2 separate regions of the Homo sapiens genome follow, and region 1 is linked to region 2. Evidence: fine-mapped expression QTL. A gene starts in region 2. The other region holds a variant in brackets. All regions are shown on one strand. Distances are between the middles of the regions. Region 1 has its middle 22 kb from the start of RCN3. Region 2 holds the start of NOSIP (nitric oxide synthase interacting protein).

The links. PIP is the estimated chance that this variant, and not a neighbour inherited with it, causes the effect.
Region 1: its variant is fine-mapped to the expression of NOSIP in whole blood (INTERVAL, PIP above 0.99).

Annotation. Positions count from the first base shown.
Region 1 is chr19:49,548,056-49,550,965 of GRCh38, reverse strand. No RefSeq gene overlaps it. Among named protein-coding and RNA genes, the nearest start is that of RCN3, 22 kb to the right of the region's middle. The variant G/C (reference allele first, on the strand shown) is at 1,676.
Region 2 is chr19:49,579,202-49,582,111 of GRCh38, reverse strand. It overlaps NOSIP (nitric oxide synthase interacting protein), which reads left to right and starts at 1,556. Exons shown (of 9, transcript NM_001270960.2): 1 at 1,556-1,597. PRRG2 (proline rich and Gla domain 2) reads right to left here and starts at 796. Exons shown (of 7, transcript NM_000951.3): 1 at 631-796.

The sequences.
Region 1 (2,910 bases), 31 kb after region 2:
CAGCCTGTAGTCCCAGCTACTCGGGAGGCTGAGGCAGGAGAATCGCTTGAACCTGGGAGGTGGAGGTTGCAGTGAGCTGAGATCGTGCCACTGCATTGCAGCCTGGAGACAGAGCGAGACTCCATCTAAAAAAAAAAAATCAGCCCAAGCAAGGTGGTTCACGCCTGTAATCCCAACACTTTGGGAGGCCGAGTCAGGAGGATTGCTTGAACCCAGGAGTTGGCGACCAGCCTGGCCATTGTAGCAAGACCCCATCTCTACAAAAAAGAATACATTAGCTGGGCATGGTGGTGCCCACCTGTAGTCCCAGCTGCATGGGAGACCGAAGCCAGAAGATGGTGTGAGCCCAGGAGGTCCAGCTGTGATCCCACCTCTGTATTCCAGCCTGGGTGACAGAGTGAGACATGTATAAAAGGAAAAATCAGCTTCACAATTCCCCTCCTAGTTATCTACCCAAGAAACTGAAAACAGGTCCACACAAAAATATGTACGTGATCTGGGAGGCCGAGGTGGGCGGATCACGAGGTCATGAGTTCGAGACCAGCCTGGCCAGCATGGTGAAACCCTATCTCTACCAAAAATACAAAAATTAGCCAGGCGTGGTGGCAGACACCTTTAATCCCAGCTACTTGGGAGGCTGAGGCAAAACAAATGCACATGAATGACCCTAACAGCACCATTCACCATAGCCCAGAAGTGGAAACAACCCAAAAGCCCGTCAGCTGATGAGTGGAGACAAAATGTGGTCTAGCCCGTGCCATGGAATATTACTCAGCCCTAAAAAGGAATGACGTTGGGCCGGGCGCAGTGGCTCATGCCTGTAATCCCAGCACTTCGGGAGGCCGAGACGGGCAGATCATGAGGTCAGGAGATCGAGACCATCTTGGCTAACACGGTGAAACCCCATCTCTACTAAAAATACAAAAAATTAGCCGGGTGTGATGGTGGGCACCTGTAGTCCCAGCTACTCGGCAGGCTGAGGCAGGAGAATGGCATGAACCCGGGAAGTGGAGCTTGCAGTGAGCCGAGATCGCGCCACTGCACTCCAGCCTGGGCAACAGAGTGAGACTCCATCTCAAAAAAAAAAAAAAAAAAAAAAGCAATGACGTCCTGACACGGGCTACAGTGTGGATGGATCTGGAAAACATGCTGAAAGAAGCCCAGCACGAAAGGTCACACGTACGATTGCATTTATAATGAGATGCCCAGAATAGGCAAATCCATAGCAAAAGAAAGTAGTTAGTGGCTGTCCGGGGCTGGGAGTGCAGAGAGAGAGGGGATAGTGACTGCTGATGGGGTGTGGGTTTTTTTTTTTTTTTTTTTTTTTTTTGAGACAAAGTCTGGTTCTGTCACCCAGGCTGGAGTGCAGTGGCACGATCTTGGCTCACTGCAACCTCCGCCTCCCGGGTTCAATCGATTCTCTTGTCCCAGCCTCCTGAGTAGCTGGGATTACAGGCATGTGCCACCACGCCCGGCTAATTTTTGTATTTTTAATAGAGATAGAGTTTCGTCATGTTGTCCAGGCTGGTCTTGAACTCCTGGCCTCAAGTGATCTGCCCACCTTGGCCTCCTGAAGTGCTAGGATTACAGGCGTAGCCACCACGCCCGACCAAGGGTTAATTTTATGGCCTGTGAATTTTATCTCAGCTTTTAAAATATCAGAAGATCTGACTTC[G/C]TTAGAAGCTCCACCTGGCTCTTTGCTCCCAGCGTGTTGTCAACAGCATGGGGATTTGATCTGCTGATCTGCAAGTGGGGAGGTCACCAACGGAAGAACTAAAAGCAAAAACAGTTCAAAAGTTTATTCTAATAAGCGTTGGTCAGGATGTGGAGAAACTGGAACTTGTCTACAACGCTGGTGGGCACGTAAACTGGGGAAATGAATTGGCAATATCGATTAACGCTAAAAATGCGCCTAGCCGGTGCTCCACTACCTCACTCCTGTGTGTGTACCCCAAAGACATGCGACGATGCTCAGCAAAACACGAGCTAGAATGGCTGGGCGCAGTGGCTCCTGCCCATGATTTCAGCACTTTGTGGGACTGGGGTAGGAAGATTGCTTGAGCTTAGGAGTTTGAGACCAGCCTGGACAACATGGTGAAACTCCATCTCTATTAAAAATACAAAAATTAGCTGGGCGTGGTGTTACACGCCTGTAATCCCAGCTACTAGGGAGGCTGAAGCACGAGAATCGCTTGCAGCTGGCTGAGATCAGTGAGCTGAGATCAGTGGAGTGCAATGGCACAATGTTGGCTCTCTGCAACTGGAGTGCCACAGTACTCTGGCCTAGGTGGCAGAGCAAGATTATGTCTTAAAAAACGCAGGCCAGGGCCAGGCGTGGTGGCTCATACTTGTAATCCCAGCACTTTGGGAGGCTGAGGTGGGTGGATCACCTGAGGTCAGGAGTTCGAGACCAGCCTGGCGAACATGGTGAAACCCTGTCTCTACTAAAAACGCAAAAAGTAGCCAGCCACGGTGGCCGGCACCAGTAATCTCAACTACTAGGAAGACTGAGGCAGGAGAATCTCTTGAACCCAGGAGGCGGAAGTTGCAGTGAGCTGAGATTGAGCCGCTGCTCTCCAGCCTGGGCGACACAGCAAGACTCCATCTCAAAAAACAAAACAAAACAAAACAAAAAACACACACACAAAACAAACAAACCAAAAAACGCGGCCGGAAGCGGTGGGTGACACCTGTAATCCCAGCACTTTGGGGGGCTGAGGAGGGCAGATCTCGAGGTCAGGAGTTCAAGACCAGCCTGACCAACATGGTGAAACCCCCTCTCTGCTAAAAATACAAAAATTAGCAAGACATGGTGGTTCACGCCTGTAATCTCAGCACTTGGGAGGCCGAGGCAGCCGGATCACCTGAGATCAGGAGTTCGAGACCAGCCTGGCCAACATGGCGAAACTC
Region 2 (2,910 bases):
GCACCACCACGCCTGGCTAATTTTTTGTATTTTTAGTAGAGATGGGGTTTCACCATGTTGGCCAGGCTGGTCTCAAACTCCTGACCTCAAGTGATCCACCCGCCTCGGCCTCCCAAAGTGCTGGGATTACAGGTGTGAGCCACTGCGCCCGACCAGGAGTCCTATTATTATCCCCAGTATAGAGAACAGGAAACTGAGGCACAGAGAGGTAATATAGCTTGCCGAAGGTCACACAGTGTGCAAGTGTGAGAGCCAGGATTTCAGTGAAGGCAGTGTCCGCCAGAGAAGAAAGCAAGGAGCAGGCAGCTTATCTTTCTTTCCCCACTGTGTCTACAGCACCTGACACAGATGCTTATAAACATGTCCACTGGTGATCTGGAGTCTTCCCTTCCTGGTAATTTCCACTTGTGCCTCTTTCTGTGCTCATTGTCACATCCACCCACAGACAACAAAGATTACGAGAGAGGCAGAGGCAGGGGATTAGTTATATTATTGGGTCTAGGGACCTAAGTGGGCAGGGGCCCTGGACTCCTGGGCCTAGGAGCCCCAAACTTCTGGGTCTCGGAGGGGCGGGGAGCCAGGATGCCTGGGTCCCCAAGCCAGGCTCTTCCTCCAGGGACATTCACTTACCTGCCCAGAAATGTGAGCACTGCCCCTTCCTCTTTAATCGAGAACTCCTTGGCCAGCTACAGCCAGCTGTGAAAGGGGACAGGGAAGAGGGGAGGGGATAAGGAGGAGGGGCGCCCCACTCCCGGTAACCAGGCCTGATCCCCGTTTCTGGCAGGTGGGCGGAACTTGCCATTACCTGCCCTGGGCGGGACTCAGGTAAGGGACAAAGTATTTAAAGGGACCTTGGGATAAAGGACTTAAAGGCCAGAGCTCCATGAGGAAGCCAAGGTGTCGAATACCATGGGATACCTGGGGGATTAGATTCGACCCTCCTCCTCCCTCCCGACCCCTACCCGCTCTGGCTCTCCCCTGGGAGTTCGTCTGTCCGAGCTAGAAAAATTAATATCTAGGTCTCTAGGTATCTAGAAACTAGCGGGAACGATATGCCTTAGTCCCTGGGACAGCTGGGCAGTGCCGCAGTAAATCCCTGTTTCCTGAGAGCGACTTGAACGGCTTTGATTTTCAATTTCCCAATGGCTCTGTCTGTAAAATGGGAGCGTAGTTGTCTCTTCTCAATTGTTTTAAGATGCAGCAAGAAAAGTGGATGATATATTTGGGAAAGTGGGCTTCCCGATCTCTAGGGGAAGTGATTAGTCCTTAAATTTGGGCTTGGAGAGACTCAAAACCTGGGAACCAAGCAGGAAAAAACGATCTCCCTGGGAAATGCCTCGTACATAGTAAGCGTTCCCCATATTCCCACCAGTTTCAATATCCGGAACTTTCGATTAGCTACTCACGTTTCCGGAGAGAGAAAGAGAAGAGAGGACTTGAGCAAGCCAGGCGAGGCACTTCCGCAACTAGGGGCAGCTCTACTTCCGGTGCCTTCTGCTGGGCGGAAGTGGGCGGAGCGGAGGGGGAAAATAGTGCTCCTTTCCGGTGTCGGGGCACAGTTGAAGAAGCGACCGAGGGACTGGGAGTCGTTAGTGAGGTGAGTTCGAGGCGGTGCAGGAAGAGTGTTGCTGGGATCGCTTTCCTGCGGGCTAGAGGCCTGGGGTCTTGAGGGAGACTGGGGCAAGATTTTGGATTCCCGATTCCCTGTCAATCATTATTAATACAGCTGTCCGGGCGCCCCAAGTTTGAAGCTGAACTACACTCTGCTGGAGGTGGCCAACCGTCCATCGGGCAGTTCTCTCTCTCTTTGTCTCTCTCTCTCACTATAAACTCAGTCAAGTGGTAGCTAGCATCGGCCAGTTCTCCTGAGAGTTACAGTTCTGCTGTAGATGATGGCTATTTGCTGGTGGTCCCAAGGGAAGGAGTGGACTGGGATTGCTGGGGGTCTAAGGAGTGGGAGTTGAGGAGGGAGAACTCCTTTCCTGGCCTCAGTTTCTCAGACTGTGGTGGGACGGCGGGCGATACTAGATTGTGCAGTCATCCATCGCCACCTTCTCTTCACCTTTTTGACAGCCCCTTCCCTTTCGGGGTTGGTGCAGGGATTCACGTTTTCTTGTGTGGAGCTTCGGGGTCAGGCAGTCATGGATTCCCATTCTGATTGTGCTGCTAATTCTGTGAACTTGGGGCTTGAACGGTCCTTGAGGCAGTTTGATGTTAATGTTTTCTTACGAAAATGTTCAAACTTATATAAAAGTGAGAGAAGAATACAGGAATTCCTGTCACCCAAATCACCAATGATTATTTTTGCCATACTTGCTGTATTTTTTTAAACTTAAAGAGATTAAAACAAATCGTAGGCATCATGACACTTAAGGATTGTCAAAAGACAAAATTGCAACACATTTAGTGAGAAGATCTTAATTGGCATTTATTCGTGAATCTACAATCAAACAACATCTAATTATGGAAAATAGCGTGAGTGTTCCGATGAGCTGAGCAGAGGTTGTTTTCAGAGACAAAGGGCTGAGAAAATCAGAAACGGAAAACAAAAAGCTAGTTGATTAAATTGATTAACTTGATTAAATTTCTAAGTTAAAGGTTAAAGTAGAGGGGACTTCCTTTATCAGGTGGGCTAAAACTGGGTTGTTTGGGGATTTGGCTATTATCTCTCTCCTGATATCTCAGAAGATCAGATATCAACTTAGTTTTGGCTTGGAAGCATGGAACTTTAGCATGAGTGTCTCCATTTTGGTTTGGTCTGTTGAACCTAGTGCAGGAGCTCAATCCAAACCAATGACCTTCTATAAATTTTATCTAACAGGGTGCGTGTGTAAAAACCAGAAACATTGCTGATATGACCACAATACCATCATCACACTTTAAAAGAACAACCGTAATTCTAGACTACTA